Linked DNA regions of Homo sapiens. The protein of the gene in region 2 purifies or fractionates together with the protein of the main gene of each other region. This does not show direct contact. Each region holds a gene or a part of one and is shown on either strand. Other genes may lie near its edges.

What was found. The genes of interacting proteins can lie anywhere in the genome.
Region 1: the proteins of WDR12 (region 2) and TOM1 fractionate together in Homo sapiens (co-fractionation; one large-scale study listed by BioGRID). This does not show direct contact.

The regions. Positions count from the first base shown.
Region 1 is NC_000022.11:35,316,763-35,320,465, reverse strand, and holds part of TOM1 (target of Myb1 membrane trafficking protein), read right to left. Parts: intron 2,590-3,703; coding exon 2,505-2,589; intron 1-2,504.
Region 2 is NC_000002.12:202,894,551-202,898,253, forward strand, and holds part of WDR12 (ribosome biogenesis protein WDR12), read right to left. Parts: intron 2,866-3,703; coding exon 2,750-2,865; intron 1,670-2,749; coding exon 1,515-1,669; intron 77-1,514; coding exon 31-76; intron 1-30.

The DNA.
Region 1 (3,703 bases), on a different chromosome or scaffold from region 2:
AGAAGCCTAGGGGTCACGGTGTTGGGAGGCCCCTGGAAGCTGGGGTGCCAGCCTGCTCTCCCTGTCCCCTCTGTGATTCCCACCATCCTCCACCCTCGGCCCTATACAGGTATACTCAGTGCTGCCCTGACTGCTCTTGTCTAAAAGCCTTTGTGCAGGGCCCCCACTTGCACCCTGAAGGCTCCTGACCTCCACATCCATGAGGTGAAGCCTCAGCTAAAATCCACCCCTTCCACAACACTTTCCCAGGTCCTCCAGTCTCCCTGGCCTGTTCTGCCATGCCACATTGAACTGGGGGCCCACCCTGGGTAGAGAAGAAGCTTGCTAGAGGGCAGGGATGGTGTTCTCTTTGGACAGCTTCCCTTCCTAGAGCCCATCACACTACTGAAGCACAAGTAACATTTCTCAGCCTGGCCAGTGGCCACTGGGACCCATCCGGCTGTCTGCCTGGCTGTCAGTGCTGACCCCATCCAGGACTAAGGCAGGAGAGCCTGGAACCCTGGCACTGGTTCTCAGCAGGAGTGAAGGCAGAGGCAAGGCTTCCTAGGGACAGAGCCTGCCTGGGGGCTAGAGCTATGGAGGCGGTCAGGCCTGCGGTGGAAGGGACACGGTGGGGAAAGGGATGGTGGCCCACCAAGGGGGGTCCTGGCCCAGAAGCCTGAGAGCAGTTTCCAACCCTTGCCTCCCTGGGCAGCCCCTCGCCCGTCCCTGGCTCCTGGTCTTGGCCTGGCCACTGACCCACGGGCTACTTCAGCGCTTTATAGTGACTTCTTTCCACCTCTTCTAGGGTGGCCTAGACACAAGGGAATCAGAATCATTCCCTGGCATGTTCCGCCATGCGCCACTGACCTGGGGGCCCACCCTGGGAGAGAAGAAGCCTCCTAGAGCGCAGGGACAGCGTCCTTGTTGGACGCCTTCTCTCCCTAGAGGGAAGCACTGGGAATCGGAAGTTCTGGCCTTGCCACTGCTGTGGGCCCATGATGTCCGGTACTCTGCTGGGAGCACAAAGTGTATGACAAGGAGGCCACAACCCAGTGGGGGAGACACTTTAGCAACGAGGCTAAGTTTAGGTGCCATGCTTGGTGAGGTCAAGGGTCATGCCTGCCTTTGATCACTGCTGGGTCCCTAGTGCCTCCTGTGTTGCCTGGAACACACAAAGTGCTCAAATAAATAGCAATGCACCTGACCGACGCCGAGCCTGTTCCTCCCATGTTTATAAGGGACATGGGGGCTTGCTGTCCCCAAGGATACTGCAGTGACTTGCAGCTGCGACGTCCATGAAGCTCCCAGGCCTGTCTAGAGGCTTGGTGAGGTTTTCTGCCTCCTGCTTTCTTTCTTCTGACCTCTGCCCACCACTCCTTCCCTCACCCTCACTCTCATGAGTCCTTGGCAAGATCAGGGAGCAGGGCTGAGGAAGACACCGGCAGGTTCCTGGCAGCCACTGCCCTCTCCTGACTGGGCCTTGACTGTGTGACTCAGATGCCCACAGCCTCCCTCCAGCTCAGAGCTGGGCACTCCCTGCCCTCCACCTGCATCCAGCCTGCGCCTCTCCACGCAAAGCCCTCCCGGGCTGAGAGGAACCCTGCACTGGCCGCGGGAGAGCTGGATGATCCCAGTGAGAACTGGAGAGGGAAAGGAGGGTCCACACTGATTTCTCAGGATGGAGGCCTCGTCTGGCAGCACTTCCTGCTGCCCACGGCTCCCACACCTCTGCCCAGCCTTCGCTGGGTTTTCCTGAGAGGACAGGGACCCTCGCATCCCCTTTCTGCTCCCTCCAGGGACTCGGGCTTATTGCTGGAAGGATCTAACAGAGCACCTTCGAGGACAAAGACCTAGAGAGGTAAAGTGACTTCCGAAGGTCACACGGCTGGTCAGTGACAACGAGTCAGACATTGGAGGCCAAGACCCCAATCCTTCCCCCACACCATGTGCCTTGGCAGGGCTCCTTGGCACTGAGCAAGACGATACCGTGACCCCAACACCAGAAACGCCCGGCAAACGCCAGTGCTGTTCAGGCTCACGGTTCAGCTTCACTTTCCCTGCCATCCTTGTGATCTCCCTTACCCTCCAGGCTGGTTTCAAATCTTAAGGAAATGGAAGTCTGTTTTTGCTCGCAGAAAAGCCGGAGTCTCTCTAGTACACACTCCCGCCTGCAGAATGCAGATGGCGCTTGGGGTCAACTTCTGATTAAGAGTCTCCAGCTTGCCTCATCCTAGGCAGATGCTGCACACAAGGCTGGGCTTCCAGATCCGTGTGGAATCTGGGCTGCCACTAAGAGAGGCGGGGTGGGGTGGCAGCCCCCAGGGGCCAGCTGTGAATTCCTACCTTGGATGGGGCTCAGGTACTAGGGGCTCAGATGGCCTCTGCAGCCAAGCGGGTTGGGTCAGACTTGGTGGCTATGGCAGCAATGGGGCTGGGGCAGGGGCTCCCTGGAAGGGTGCAGGAGTGTGCTGCGTGGTGGGATGGCCGTCTCTGCCCCCAACCTCTCCTTGGGGGGCCCTTACCCTTCCTCCGTCTCGTTGATGATGTCGCAGATCTCCATGTTGAGGGCCCAGTCCTCGCTCTGCAGGGAGCCATCTGTGGCTTTCTCTGAGAAGAAACCAGGAGTCATAAAGTCATGAGGGGGTCCTGAATGGGTAAACTCAAACCGTGGGTGGGAGAGGAGGGGGGTGCAGGGCCGGATGAGATGGGGAGGAGGAAGATGACAGACACTTCCTGGGCACAGGGCCTGGCCCTGTGTGAGACTGCTCTATACACATTGTCCCATCGTCACTAGATTCTTGTAGCCACTGAGGCCGGAGTACCTCTGCTCTTCAATGGATGAGGAAACCATGACTCTGAGTGCACCAAAGGGATGCACCAGAGGGGAATCTAGGTGGGCCTCCGTGTGCTTATTCCTGACATGACAATATGGAGACAGTGCTTTGCTTCATTTCTGTAGATAAGATGTTCTCCCTTGACTTTAGAATTATCTTTTGAGCTGGGCGCGGTGGCTCACGCCTGTAATCCCAGCACTTTGGGAGGCTGAGGTGGGTGGATCACCTGAGGTCAGGAGTTGAGACCAGCCTGACCAACATGGTGAAGCCCCGTCTTTACTAACTACAAAAAAGTAGCTGGGCATGGTGGCACATGCCTGTAATCCTGGCTACTTGGGAGGCTGAGGCAGGAGAATCGTTTGATCCCAGGAGGCGGAGGTTGCAAAGAGATTGAGCCATCACACTCCAGCCTGGACAACGAGAGCGAAACTCCATCTCCAAAACAAACAAACAAACAAGCAAAAAAGAATTATCTTTTGAGTTGGTAACCATTCACAGGATACAAAATGTAAAAGTTCTCAAGTGGTATACAATGGAGCTAGGTAAATCTATCTCTGTCCCCTGCCCCAGCCCCCTCTTCCTAGAGGCATCCCCTGTAACCAGGTTCCTCTAGAATCTCACAGAGAGCTTCTTTACCTAGGAAGCAAACGCTCCATTACTAACAGGTCACCTGGCCCTCCTGTACCCTTCTGAGGCACCCACAGAAGGGACCGATGCCGAGCCACCCAGCAGAACTACCCCAAAGAGAGGTGATGATTCATGCAAGGTACCAGCACAGTAAGGTATCAGCACGGCAAGGTATCAGCACGGTACGGGCCCAAAATAAACACTCAGCAAGTGGTGGTGGTTCTTTTTAAAAAAAGTTGAGGCGAAAGTCACATAAAATA
Region 2 (3,703 bases):
AAGTCAAGGTAAAATAAATATTTAATTTACCTGTAGACCAGATCTTTAGCATCTTATCCCAGGAGCCACTGCAAAACTAAACAGATGTATATGAAGGGAAAAGACATATGTAATATGATTCATATTATTTGCCTACAACAGTAGGTCTCTTCCTCATTCAGGACCTTTTCAAAGAACTTGTGTTCCACAGAACTGAAATTAGCCTTTTTCCAGGGGCAGATAGGACAGAACATAAAATCTGGGAAATCTTGAAGGCCAAGCTTATTGCCATGTCTTTTGAAGAAAGCCAATCTGAAGTGAGAGAGAATAAAGTCAACTTGAGGGACAAGACAGCGAGAGGGTGTGCGGACCACATTCAAGCCTCTATTCCACTGGTTCCTGAGGCCCAAATGCACCATTACCCTTCTTGTGATGTGGTTGTTCAATCTTTCCTTGGATCTCACAATCCATTTACTTTTAAGGTTAAATAAGTTCAAGTTGAGTTTCTATCTCTCCTTAACCAAAAAGAAGAGGTACAGTTAATCCACTAAAGTTTGGACTAAACAACATATAAAACTTTTCGGCTCAATATGAAAAATCATAAATCTTCACCTTTGAATACAAGCATCCTGTTACCCTAACTGTCAAAGAAACACTCTTAAGTCCAGAATACTTCAATGTGGCTTAGGAAACTTTCAAATTCTAAGTGGATTTATAACCCTTCATATTAATAAATCAATATGGTATTGCCCTCAGGTTTGTTACCTTTTAACTAACTTTTACCATTTTGTCATGATAAAGAGTAGATTGATACTATAGTAAAACTCTATTAGCACTAACTTTAGTGTATGCTAATGCTCAGACTATCAACTAGGCGTTTTCAGTTGATGACAGCACTTAAGAGTAGCTGATATAGACTGGAAATATGTCAATTACTATGAGGTAAGAAGGTTATATAAATGAATGGCTTGTTTACTTCATTTCTTTCTTTTTTTTTTTTTTTTTTTTTGAGACTGAGTTTCACTCTTGTTGGGCCCAGGCTGGAGTGCAACGGTGCAATCTCGGTCACTGCAACCTCTGTCTCCCGGGTTCAAGTGATTCTCCTACCTCAGCCTCCCGAGTAGCTGGGATTACAGGCATGCGCCACCATGCCCGGCTTATTTTTTTTTTTTTTTTTTTTAGTAGAGACAGGGTTTCTCCATGTGGGTCAGGCTGGTCTTGAACTCCTGACCTCAGGTGATCTGCCCGCCTCGGCCTCCCAAAGTGCTGGGATTACAGGCGTGAGCCACCGCGCCCGGCCCATACCTCATTTCTTAAAATTTCTGGAGTTTATATAAGGTTCTAAACCAGGGATTCAAACTGAGCAAGTGACTATCTCCTATTGTATGAGTATTTACTCTTGCTTTGAAATCCTATCTTTTGTCACCGATTGTTAGGAAACTAGGCCAACACAATGAATATATGCAGAAGAAAATGTTTAGCAACAAGCTCAAATTCAAATTTAACAGAGTACTAATAATATTCTAGCTACTTACTTTAGTTCCTGAGCCATCAACAGCTATAGAATCTACACTTCCAGCATGACCTCTACAGCAGTGTAGGGCTTTCACTTTGTTTCTCTCTACATTCCACTCCCATAAGAGAATAGTCTGATCCATAGAAGCACTCAATAATAAGCAGGACAAACTATCTGGAGAAAGGAGAACACAAGAATAAGAAACAAATCAGTATACCATTTAGAATACATCATGTTCTGAAACCAAAGAACTAAATTTTTTTGTTGTTATTGAAAAAGATGTTAAAAAGATAACTCATATGGCCAGGTTTTAAAAGGCTGATGTGGTATAAAGAAAAGATTCTTCAAAAATAGATGACGATGACTGGGTGTGGTGGCTCACGCCTGTAAATACTGACATTTTGGGAGGCCAACACAGGCAGATCACTTGAGGTCAGGAGTTTGAGACCAGCCTGGCCAACATGGCAAAACCCTGCCTCTACTAAAAATATAAAAATTAGCCGGGTGTGGTGGCAGGCGCCTGTAATTGCAGCCACTCAGGAGGCTGAGGCAGGAGAATCACTTGAACTCAGGAGGTGGAAGTTGCAGTGAGTTGAGATGGAGCCACTACACTCTAGCCTGGGCGACAGAGTGAGACTCTGCCTCAAAAAACAAACAAACAGGCTGGGTGCAGTGGCTCACGCCTGTAATCCCAGCACTTTGGGAGGCCAAGGCGGGTGGATCATGATGTCAGGAGTTCGAGATCAGCCTGGCCAAGATGGTGAAACCCCGTCTCTACTAAAAATACAAAAATTAGCCAGGCGTGATGGTAGGTGCCTGTAGTCCCAGCTACTCGAGAGGCTGAGGCAGGAGAATCGCTTGAACCTGGGAAGTGGATGTTGCAGTGAGCCGAGATCATGCCACTGCACGCTAGCCTGGGTGACACAGCGAGACTATCTCAAAAACAAAACAAAACAAAACAAAACAAAACAAACAAACAAAAACAGAAGAAAATAAAAGATGAATGTAATACATTCAATATTAACTTGAAAATGTATATTATCTGATGTAATTTTAATAAAGATACACTTCTAACAATTTATGAATTTTTTATATAATCTTTTTCTTCTTGAACACTGTATTTTTTGAAAGACCTCATAATAACTGAGGTATGAGATACTTCCCACCCACTCCCCATTCTTCCCCAGCACCAAAAATGGCTTATTTCCAAATCCCTATCTAGGATTCCTCTAAGTGTAGGCAAACTGTCCTAACCTTTTTTCACCCAGGCCACATCTTTTACAACATCCGTATGTCCCACAATTGTCATTATTGACTTTCCTTCCAAGGACCAGATCCGAGAAGTCTTATCATAAGAACCAGTCAAGATCCTATGAGAAAAAAAAATCTTATGAAACACAAAAAGCAGTTTTTCCAAACCCTGAAATGTTTCTTTGGCAATGACAAAGTAACTTTGAGGATTATACTTTTAAACTCTTTTTTGATATGAAGATTGAGATTTCAAGCCATACTAGATCAGATCACTTGACGTTTCTCAACCTCCTAAAAATAATACCTGGCATGGCTGGGCGTGGTGGCTCACGCCTGTAATCCCAGCACTTTGGGAGGCTGAGGCAGGCGGATCACGAGGTCAGGAGATCGAGACCATTCTGGCTAACACAGTGAAACCCTGTCTCTACTAAAAATACAAAAAATTAGCCAGGCATGGTGGCGGGTGCCTGTAGTCTCAGCTACTCAGGAGGCTGGGGCAGGAGAATGGCGTGAACCCAGGAGGCAGAGCTTGCAGTGAGCCGAGATTGCGCCACTGCACACCAGCCTGGGTGACAGAGCGAGACTCCGTTTCAAAAAAAAAAAAAAAAAAAAATATATATATATATATAAAAAATATATATCATATATATACATAGTATAAAATTACTTTCAGGCTAGGTGTATAAGCTGTATATGAAACATAAATGAATTTCATGTTTAGACTTGGATCACATCCCTAAAATATTTCACTATGTATATGTTAATATTCCAAAACCACCCCCACCCAAAAAAAATCCTACATCCAAAATACTTCTGGTACCAAACATTTCCAGATAAGGAATACCCAACCTGTAGTACTCTTTTTTCTTTTTGAGATGGAGTCTTGCTCTGTTGCCCAGGCTGGAAGGCAGTGGCGCGATCTCAGCTCACTGCAACCTCTGCCTCCTGGGTTCAAGT